Homo sapiens: one gene and its partners. The protein of the gene in region 3 interacts with the protein of the main gene of each other region in a pairwise test. Each region holds a gene or a part of one and is shown on either strand. Other genes may lie near its edges.

Region 1 (3,390 bases), on a different chromosome or scaffold from region 3:
CATTTCTAAAGAGTTCCTGGATGATGATGATGCTGGTCCAGGGACCACACTTTGAGAACCACTGCTCTTCAGCTTTCCTGCTGTTTCCTCCTTGAGTGATTCACATGGAAGGAAGCCAGGCGCCGCCCTGCATCCTGTAGCCTGAACTTTGGAATAGTGTTTGTCCACAGAGGAGCCAGACTTGAATTTAGGACTGAGTGTCCAGCTTTCAAATAAACACTTTTTGCCTGTTGTAGGTGTTCAGTAAATGTGTGTGGAGGAACAAAGCGTAAATGAGAGTGGCCTTTTCAGTGTAAAATCACTTAGCTCTTTGATCCCCTTTTACTTGGTTAATCTTCACTTTAAGAGCTATTTATATGGTTAAAGAACTTACTAAACAAAACATTCTTGGAGTTATTTTGATTATCTCCAAGTTTCTCTTTCTTACATTTTCACCAGTTTGTAGGTTCAGTGAATACTCTTTTCAGGCCAAAGGGCTTACCTTTAAAACCTCACCTACCACACACGTTCAGCCTAGTACCTTGCAAGATGAGTCAGGCAGAGGTGAAAAAGCCCTTCCCTGTTCCTGTATCTTTGGATACGGAAACAGGCGTGAACGTTGCTGAACGTGGACCCTGTAGTGAGTAAGAGCTGTTTGTTAGTGACTGAAGGTCGTGGTGTGTTGTCTGTAGGAAAGTGTCTTACTATTCCACATCCCTCATTTGCATGTGGGGAACAGACAGCCATGGAAGAAAAGAGATTTGCCCAAACTAAAATAGGGGGAGCCACAGCCAAGACAAGAACTGGCCTGGTCACTGGTCTCTACCGCTTTGGATCATTGCTATCTCTGAGCATGGACAAGTTGACTGTAGAGAGCTTTAAAGGCTAAAAATATAATTGGTATATTAAAAAAAAAGTAGAGAAATAAGGTGAACATGATTATGATTGTTAAGACAGTCTCAGGGGAGGTGTTAAACAAGTTCTTAAAAATTGAGTAAAGCACCTCTCACTTGACACCAAATGGATAATAATAATGTTAGGTGGCACTAAATGTGGCTCAGATTAATACTAAACAGCCACTTTTCTACTGGAAGAAAAATGAGGCAACCTAATGATGACCAAGGGAAATTGTGAACTGTCCATTACTGAAGATAGGCTTGGAGTGGATCGCCCTCATGGTTTGGAGGGATGCTTTTTGTCTTGCCTTAGTGTTGGCGTGAGAACAGATGACCTACTAGCTCAGAGTCGGCTGTGTGGCTTTGAAAACAATGGAAAGTAATGACACATGGACTTTTCAAAGCAAAGATGTTTTTTAAAAAGAGACCAATAAACAGTGTACAGAATTGCCTGGCTGAAGGTTTGGGTGTAGCTACTGGTGTTTGCTAACTGAGCTTTCCCTCATTGTGGGATCACTGCATAAATCTGACTCCAGATTTTTTCCACTGATGTGATTTTAGCAGTTTTGTGAAAAGAGAACAGGATAGTTTTATGTTCCTAACACTGCTTTCTAAATTTCTAAGAGTGCCCTGATTCCTTGGTGGACACCGTTCACTGAACTTAGTTTGTCTTGAAGTGGCCTCATGTTGATAGGATAGTCACACTTTTACACTTCTTGGGGCAGCTGTAGGGACTTAATTGGATTCAGAGTAATCCACATGTGACTGCTTTTCGAAACCGTGCCTTCATTTCTGCAGGCAGCAGCACAGGGATGCTTCAGAGCTGGTGCGTCCTCCGAGCTCACACGAGCTCATTTGGTAGCACGAAGTGGCCACAGGCACGGCAGCTGCTCAGCTCCTTTGTCCAGCCTGGGTCCCAGGACCCGCACTTCCTTGGATGCATCATGAGGGCTTCTGTTTCTTTCCTTGTGGTTTCAGGTTGAGTGTGTTTTGAGTTTTACTAATTATGTCAAGAAGAAAAAACACACTTTTTACAAGCTTGGTGGGATGGGGAGCAAATTGAGTGTCAGAGCTCCTAAATTCAAGAAACTGACTCAGTAAATTTGGTTAAACTGTGGAATTATCATTTGAGGTCATTAAAAAAATAAAGCAAAAAACTACCTTTTCAAAATATCCGATGAAGAGAGCTCTGGGAGAGAACTCAAGTCCTCGATGACTCCCTCTCTGCATATTAGAACATGGAACCCGCAGGGGTGATAGCATGAGAGCGCTGGAGACAGGGTGCGCAACCCCAGCCTTCTGTTTTGACTTGAACCAACAATGGAAACTTTTCCCCCCTTTCATTGCAGGTGTCTCTCCTACTACAGTCAGCTGCAGCTCCTCCCTGGGAGATTGTCAAGTGCTGTTAGTTCACATGCGCCACCTAATTAGTGGAAGTCTTTTGTTTTCCTCCCATTTTTGATAACAATCGCAGAGGGGCAGTGCCCTCAGGGATCCAGGTGGGCTGAGTTTCGCCTGATGGTGCTTCTGTGCTTACTTACCTTTCTAAGTGAAATGATTTAGACTTCAGAAACATTGGAACAGTTGGCAGTTGCTGTAGACTTTTCTCAGCAGAATCAATTAATGTTGGCCTGATGTTAGGTACGTACAAGTTTGATCTCATTTGATCCTGTCATTTCAAATATTTTAATGCAATTTATTTTTTAACTAGGTACATGTGAAGATTTTTTGGCAGCTTAGCGTGGAAACCATTGATCACCCTGCTCTCATTTCTACCTGTTCTGTGTTGGCAAGGGAGAGTGCCCAAATGAGCAAGATATCGCAGCAAAACAGCACTCCAGGGGTGAACGGAATTAGTGTTATCCATACCCAGGCACATGCCAGCGGCTTACAGCAGGTTCCTCAGCTGGTGCCTGCTGGCCCTGGGGGAGGAGGCAAAGCTGTGGCTCCCAGCAAGCAGAGCAAAAAGAGTTCGCCCATGGATCGAAACAGTGACGAGTATCGGCAACGCCGAGAGAGGAACAACATGGCTGTGAAAAAGAGCCGGTTGAAAAGCAAGCAGAAAGCACAAGACACACTGCAGAGAGTCAATCAGCTCAAAGAAGAGAATGAACGGTTGGAAGCAAAAATCAAATTGCTGACCAAGGAATTAAGTGTACTCAAAGATTTGTTTCTTGAGCATGCACACAACCTTGCAGACAACGTACAGTCCATTAGCACTGAAAATACGACAGCAGATGGCGACAATGCAGGACAGTAGACCTCACCCTTTCCAGACTTTAGAGCTTGTGGCTTGAATGTTAAAGGTGTGACCACCGACACCACTCATGTCAATGGCTGAAAGTTGTCCATTTCCATGACTCAAAGACCCATTGGAGGCTATTTTCTGGGATCAGCACTGAAGAGTTGATTAGCTAAAAATGTTAGCCTTGTAATTCGAATATCTGGTTTTAAATGATAGAGGTTTTTGTGGGAATCAAAATCCCCCAAATGTTAAGGTATATGGTAAAAAAAG
Region 2 (3,751 bases), on a different chromosome or scaffold from region 3:
TCACCTCCATCTATCCATTTTTGTTCTTTTAAGCCTATTTTATATTATTTGCTTATATGCCAAACCCTAAACGATGAGTTCTTGAAGGTTAAAATTATGTTTTATTCATCTTTTTTCACTAGCCCCCGCATAGTCGCTGGCATACATACCGTGGTGCTCAATAAATGCATGTGGCATTAACTAAAAGTTTGCTGTTTCTGGAATTCGTCTGAAACCTGAAACACTGCAACAACATCTCACTTAGAATGTTGCCTTACCCTTTTGCCATAATTTTAGAGTGAGGAAGTAGAGGTCACTAGATTACGTGTCCTTTTATGAAGAACCTACAGCTCAGGGCAGAAAGGCACTTGCCGGAATCACCCTGCCAGGGAACTCTGAACCCCGCTGCGCCGCCGCTCCTGATCTCTGGGGTTTCAGGCGCCTCCTCTCTTACAACCCTCTCCTGGGGAAGTAAACCCCATCAAGACACCACCACATCCTTCCCCAGCGACTCAGCCTGGGGTCACAAAGGCCTTTACGTCCCACTGAAAAACGGTTTTCTTTCATTTGTGCCCATTCGTTCTTGCAGCCCCTTCCCCAGATCGAAGACTAGGGTCTTAGTAAGGAGAGGTAAGGAGGGAGGGGAAGAACCTGCCTGGCCCCCCGCGGAGCTCTGCAGGGGGCGTCGCGGCTGCACGCCAGCGCCCGCACCACCCCAGGCGGGAAGGGAGTTATCACACAGGGGGTCGCACGCAGATCTCGGGGACCGTGGGTGCCACGAGGTCAAACTGGCAGAGGGAGACGCTGCAGCTGCTGTAACAGCAAGGAAAGCCGAAGCCCCCTTAGGGGATACTTTACAAAATTATTTTAATCACCGTGCAAACCTAATAACTTGACCCAAGCGCAATCACCTGTATTCACCCAGAGTAAATATTCCTAAAATCCCGTTCAGTGTGTCTGTGTCTCTCCCGCCTCTTTCCGTTTCAGGCAAATGTCTACCCCCCCTCTCCCCCCACCGTTAACACCTCTCTGCAGCGTGGGAAACAGTGCCCAGCAGCTCAGTCCTCCGCTTCCCGCTCTGCTTTTTGCATCCCATTCGGACTTATAGGAAGTAGTTATTTTTTGGTGGTGGTGGAAACTGGGCAAGAAAGAAGACGCTAAGCTTGGCCGGGGCCAGGAGAAATATTGAGAAGGGTCGTTACCTTCCATCCGATCTAAACCAATCATCTCAAACTTGGCTACTCTTTGGAACCACCTGGGGAGCTTTAAAAATTATGGACGCCCTGATAGCACCGCAGAGGTTCTGATCTAATTGATCTGGGATGCGGCCTGGGTATCGCGATTTTTTTAAAACTCCTCAGGTTATTCCCAGCTTGAAAACTATGGATATAAATTTCTCATTCCTCTTCCCACCCAGACCAAAAAAAAAAAAAAAAATCTAAGCCTAAGTTGATGGCCCAGGGAATCTGGCACCTGCTCCCCTGCAACCAGCCAGTGCTGCAAGGTCCCCGAAAATCGGCGCGAGCGGCGACGCTAAACACGCGGCGGCGGGGCGAGCGGGCCAGGCGGGCGGTGCCGCGCGTGGCCCCGCCCCCGCACGCCTATGGGCGCGAGGTGCGGGCCCTGACGTCACTCTTGTCAGGGCCGCGGCACATGGGCGGCCGGATGCGCTGAGCCCGGCGCTGCGGGGCCGCGGAGCGCTGGGGAGCAGCGGCCGCCGGCGCGGGGAGGGGGGTGGGGTGGGACGGCGCACCGCCTCCGGTGCTGGCACTAGGGGCTGGGGTCGGCGCGGTGTCTTCTGCCCTTCTGCAGCCGTCGACATTTTTTTTTCTTTCTTTTTTTCAATTTTGAACATTTTGCAAAACGAGGGGTTCGAGGCAGGTGAGAGCATCCTGCACGTCGCCGGGGAGCCCGCGGGCACTTGGCGCGCTCTCCTGGGACCGTCTGCACTGGAAACCCGAAAGTTTTTTTTTAATATATATTTTTATGCAGATGTATTTATAAAGATATAAGTAATTTTTTTCTTCCCTTTTCTCCACCGCCTTGAGAGCGAGTACTTTTGGCAAAGGACGGAGGAAAAGCTCAGCAACATTTTAGGGGGCGGTTGTTTCTTTCTTATTTCTTTTTTTAAGGGGAAAAAATTTGAGTGCATCGCGATGGAGAAAATGTCCCGACCGCTCCCCCTGAATCCCACCTTTATCCCGCCTCCCTACGGCGTGCTCAGGTCCCTGCTGGAGAACCCGCTGAAGCTCCCCCTTCACCACGAAGACGGTGAGCGCTGCCGCGGCCCCGCTCCGGGAAGGGACGACGCTCCGGGGGTCCCCCTCCGCGGCCGGGCACGCCCGCTGGAGCATCCCCCAACCCCGCTCCCGCCCTGTCCCGCGGCGCCCCGGCCCCGCGCTGATGAAATTGAGGAGCTCACCCAGCACCCTTCCTCCCCTTCCTCCTCCTCCATGAAAGGGGAGGGACCCCTCCTGAGCTACATTTAAAAGAGCTTCGGGCACCCGGCCTCCCTGGGTCCCGCTCCTGCGGCGCGGGTGGGAGGTGTAACTTGACAGGTCAGGATCGTTCCCTAGAACGAGGCACACCCGCACGCAGAGCGAGCCCGCCTGCGGAGGGCAGAGCCTCCCGGGCTGGGGAGGAGAAACCCTGGGGCCTGGTTCTGTGCGGGGCAGGGGGCGGGGGTCGGCTTGAGGGAGGGGGTTTCACTGCGTAGCCTGGGTTTTGGGGTTGTGTTACAGCTTCTGTTACTGGTTAGTATTTGGAACTCACGAGGTGTGAGAGAAGACTCGTTTTCTTCTGGTGAAGGGTAGCTGAGAAAGCGGGGTGGGGGCTGGGGCCGGTGGGGGGAGTGGTCTCTCGGCGGGAAGCCGTGCACGCCTCCAGCGTTGACACTTTCCCGGTGCACTTTTTCTGGTGGGAGGGGAGAGCGGAGCAGGCTCACGTGTAACCGCGCAGGAGCCTCCTCTGGCTTGAGCCCTTTCTTGGTAAGTCCCAAACCTTCCCAAGACAACCTTGGCCTTAGCAGTAGAGGAGGGGTACGTGTGATGAGGCCCCAAACCCGGCTAAGTGATGCCACGGATTTGGGTTGATGCGATTTCATGCCTTCGGTATCACAGTAGCAAATGCGAACCGTGCGGCTCACAGTGTAAAGTTCTGAAAGGTTATTTGGCTACAAATAGCTTGGGAGTACTTGCACCTTCTTTTCTAGGAGAGGACAACCTGTTGCATTGCAAGAGTTTGCAATCTGCAGATGATAGCCAGGGACCCCTCCCTAACTATCCTTTAAGGAAGAGCATTTGGGAGGAAGGGGCTGCCTGCAGGCTTTTGCATCTGTGGGTGTTTTAAGTCAGATTTTCAGATGAGATGGTAGAGGGTTAGAATGGATGGCAGTGGAGGCTGTGTTTCTCTGAAGATGAAACTCAGAAGCAAATTCCTTAATCCCAGATTCCACCCACGACTGAATACTAGAATTGGCAAGATCCGGAATGCTTGTTAAAGACCTAATGGGCGAGCAGTACTTCCAGGTAGCAAATAGCTGCATACTTCCAACATAAATGTATAGAATAACTCACCTTTTCCAATAGCTCTGCTTTTGAAAGGTTTTGTAAATGCATACTCTTTGTAAATTGGATCATACTCAAATGTTTGGAGAAGAGAAGGAAGAAAACACTTTGTATTTTTTTAAACTCCTTTTGTAAAAATCAGTGTGCCCCAGTGGCTTTAGAAGCAAACACATGTGAGCTCAGAAAGTTCTCATTCTCTGCCAACA
Region 3 (3,414 bases):
GCTGAGGCTGGAGGATTGTTTGAGCCCAGGAGTTCAAGACCAGCCTGGGCAATATAGTGAGACTCTGTCTCTACAAAAATTAAAAAATAGTTAGCTGGGCGTGATGGTGCACACCTGTAGTCCCAGCTACTCAGGAAACTGAGGCAGGAGGATCGCTTGAGCCCAGAAGTTCAAGGCTGCAGTGAGCCATGATTGTACCACTGCATCCAACCTGGGCAACAGATTGAGACCCTGTCTATAGAAAAAAAAAAGTGGATTATTCTTCCTCTGCCAGGTCCCACCTCATGAGGCCAGGTGGGCCCAGGGACCTGCACGGTGATTTGTGATTAATCACCTGGGGGTCAGAATTCAGGAGGTGACCAAGACCATACTGTGAGAACTCTGGTTCAGGGTTAAAATGGGCAGGGTTTCCAGTCCCAGTTGCAAGTTGCTTCCTTTACTGAGCTTCATGCTCATCTGAAAATACCATAAACAGTGGCTTAAACAATAGACATTTATTTCTCACAGTTTTGGAGGCTGGGAAGTCCAAGATCAAGGTGCCAGCCAATTCAGTTCCAGATGAGGGTGCTCTTCCTGACTTGTAAGTGGCTGCCTTCTCGCTGTGTGCTCATGGCCTCTCAGTGCATGTGAGAGGACAGAGTGATCTCTTTCCCTTCCTCTCCTTTTTGGGATTTTTGTTGTTGTTGTCATTTTTGAGACAGAGTCTCACTCTGTTGCCCAGACTGGAGTGCAGTGGCGCCACTTGGCTCACTACAACCTCTACCTCCTGGGTTCAAGTGATCCTCCTGCCTCAGCCTCCTGAGTAGCTAGGATTACAGGCATGCGCCACTACGCCCACCTAATTTTTGTATTTTTAGCAGAGACGGGGTTTCACCATGTTGGCCAGGCTGGTCTCAAACTCCTGGCTTTAAGTGATCTGCCCGCCTCAGCCTCCCAAAGTGCTGGGATTACAGGCGTGAACCACTGCACCTGGCCCCCTCCTTTTGTTTTAATTTTTTATTCATTTATTATTTATTTATTCTTTCTTTTTTATTTCTTCATATTCTTTATTTTTTAATAGTGATGGGGGTCTTGCTATGTTGCCCAGGCTTGTCTTGAACTCCTGGGCTCAAGCAATCCTCCCACCTCCACGTCCCAAAGTGCTGGGATTACAGGCGTGAGCCACCATGCCTGGCCTCTTCCTTTTTTTTTTTTGAGAGGGTCTTACTCTGTTGTCCAGGCTAGAGTGCAGTCCACGATCCTGGCTCACTGCAACCTCAGCTTCCCAGGCTCAAGCGATCCTCTCCACCTCAGTCTCCCGAGTAGCTGAGACTACAGGCATGCACCATCACACTTGGCTAACTTTTGTATTTTTTGTAGAGACAGAGTTTCTCCATGTAGCCCAGGCTGGTCTTGAACTCCTGGACTCAATTGATCCACCTACCTCGGCCTCCCAAAGTGCTGGGATTACAGGCTTGAGCCACCGCTCCCAGCCTCCTTCCCTCTTCTTATAAGGCCACCAATCCTATCAGATTAGAACCCGATCCTCTATCCTAGGACCTCATTTAATCTAAATTACCTTCTAAGAGCCTTATCTCTAAATGCAATCACATCGGGGGTTATGGCTTCAACACATAAATTTTGGAGGGAACACAATAGAGTCCATAGCACATAGGTAGTGGCATTGAGTGGTCTAAAGAGGAGATGAGCCAGGCGCGGTGGCTCACGCCTATAATCCCAGCACTTTGGGAGGCTGAGGTGGGTGGATTACTTGTTGGCCAGGAGTTCGAGACCAGCCTGGCCAACGTGGTAAAACCCCATCTCTACTAAAAATACAAAAATTAGCCAAGCATTGTAGCTAATTAGGCAGCCCCAGTAGCTGGGATTACAGGGATGTGGTAGCTAATTAGCCAATCCCAGTAGCTGAGGCAGGAGAATTGCTTGAACCTGGGAGGTGGAGGTTGCAGTGAGCTGAGGTCGTGCCACTGCACTTCAGCCTGGGAGACAGAGAGAGACTCTGTCTCAAAAACAACAACAACAACAACAAAAAAAGGCGATGAAGCCTGAGCTTAAGGACAAATGGGCGTTTTCCCAGAGGATGAAGGTAAGAAAACGCATTGCGGACAAATGACACAGTGCTGGCACAGGCGTGGGGAGCAGCACCCTGTAGACCAGGTGAGAGTGAGGACTGGTACTCAGAATGGTGCCTAGGAGACCCACGCATCCGTTTATTCCTTCCTTCTGGAAATGCTTATTGAGCGTCTCCCGTGTGCCAGGCACATTTCTAAGCACTGGATATAGAGCTGTAGACACAGTAGACAAACGCCCACCCCAGCCCCACCCACAGGGCTCATATTCTCCTGGGGAAGCCAGACCCACAAACAAAAAGTCCCTAGAGTGGTCAGGATGTCAGATGGTGTTAAATCCTGTTGGGAAAACTAAAGCAGAGAAGAGGGAAGGGATGAAATTGAAATTGTTACTCCTTGAGCCTCCTGAAGGTGGCAAACGAATGAATAAATGAATGAGTGAGTGACTCCGTTCCTGGAGGTGAGTTGAAGCCTTTGGAGAATTTAGGTGAAGGGTGGCCTAATGATACATTTTAGAAATGTCCATCATTCCGGCCAGGCACATTGGCTCACGCCTGCAATCCCAGCACTTTGGGAGGCCAAGGCTGGCGGATCACGAGGTCAGGAGTTCGAGACCAGCCTGACCAACATGGTGAAACCCCATCTCTAGTAAAAATACAAAAATTAGCTGGGCATGGTTGTGCATACCTGTAGTCCCAGCTACTCGGGAGGCTGAGGCAGGAGAATCGTTTGAACCTGGGAGGCAGAGGTTGCAGTGAGCCGAGATTATGCCATTGCACTCCAGCCTGGGCGACAGAGCAAAACTCTGTCTCAAAAAAAAAAAAAAAAAAAAATTCATCATTCCACATGTAGAAACCAGCGTGGCAATGGGGCTGGTGGCTTTCAGGCTGAGTCCAGGGCCGGGCGCGGTGGCTCACGCCTGTAATCCCAGAACTTTGGGAGGCCGAGGCAGGCAGATCACGAGGTCAGGAGATCGAGACCATCCTGGCTAACATGGTGAAACCCCGTCTCTACTAAAAATACAAAATATTAGCCAGGCGTGGTGGCGGGCGCCTGTGGTCCCAGCTACTCAGGAGGCTGAGGCAGGAGAATGGTGTGAACCTGGGAGCTTGAGCTTGCAGTGAGCCGAGATCGAGCCACTGCACTCCAGCCTGGGCGACAGAGCCAGACTCCATCTCAAAAAAAAGAACTTTGAGTCCAGGGCCAAAACCACATTTTTATGCAAAACACCTTTGCAACTTCTTCTTTCAAAGTGTCCAGAAAAGGGGGTGGGGGACTGAAGGAAGTCGTTCAATTTATTCAGCCCTGTGAGATGTGGATATAAAATTCTTTCTGCATTTTTACCATT

The links.
Region 1: the proteins of BATF2 (region 3) and CEBPG come close enough for resonance energy transfer, tested with the Homo sapiens proteins (one large-scale study listed by BioGRID and IntAct).
Region 2: the proteins of BATF2 (region 3) and HLF come close enough for resonance energy transfer, tested with the Homo sapiens proteins (one large-scale study listed by IntAct).

What each region holds. Positions count from the first base shown.
Region 1 is NC_000019.10:33,376,558-33,379,947, forward strand, and holds part of CEBPG (CCAAT/enhancer-binding protein gamma), read left to right. Parts: intron 1-2,586; 5' UTR 2,587-2,682; coding exon 2,683-3,135; 3' UTR 3,136-3,390. UniProt on the Homo sapiens protein: Transcription factor that binds to the promoter and the enhancer regions of target genes. Binds to the enhancer element PRE-I (positive regulatory element-I) of the IL-4 gene. Binds to the promoter and the enhancer of the immunoglobulin heavy chain.
Region 2 is NC_000017.11:55,263,350-55,267,100, forward strand, and holds the start of HLF (hepatic leukemia factor), read left to right. Parts: upstream 1-1,610; 5' UTR 1,611-2,135; coding exon 2,136-2,250; intron 2,251-2,494; exon of another isoform or gene 2,495-2,537; intron 2,538-2,872; exon of another isoform or gene 2,873-2,966; intron 2,967-3,426; exon of another isoform or gene 3,427-3,506; intron 3,507-3,751.
Region 3 is NC_000011.10:64,990,639-64,994,052, reverse strand, and holds part of BATF2 (basic leucine zipper transcriptional factor ATF-like 2), read left to right. Parts: intron 1-3,414.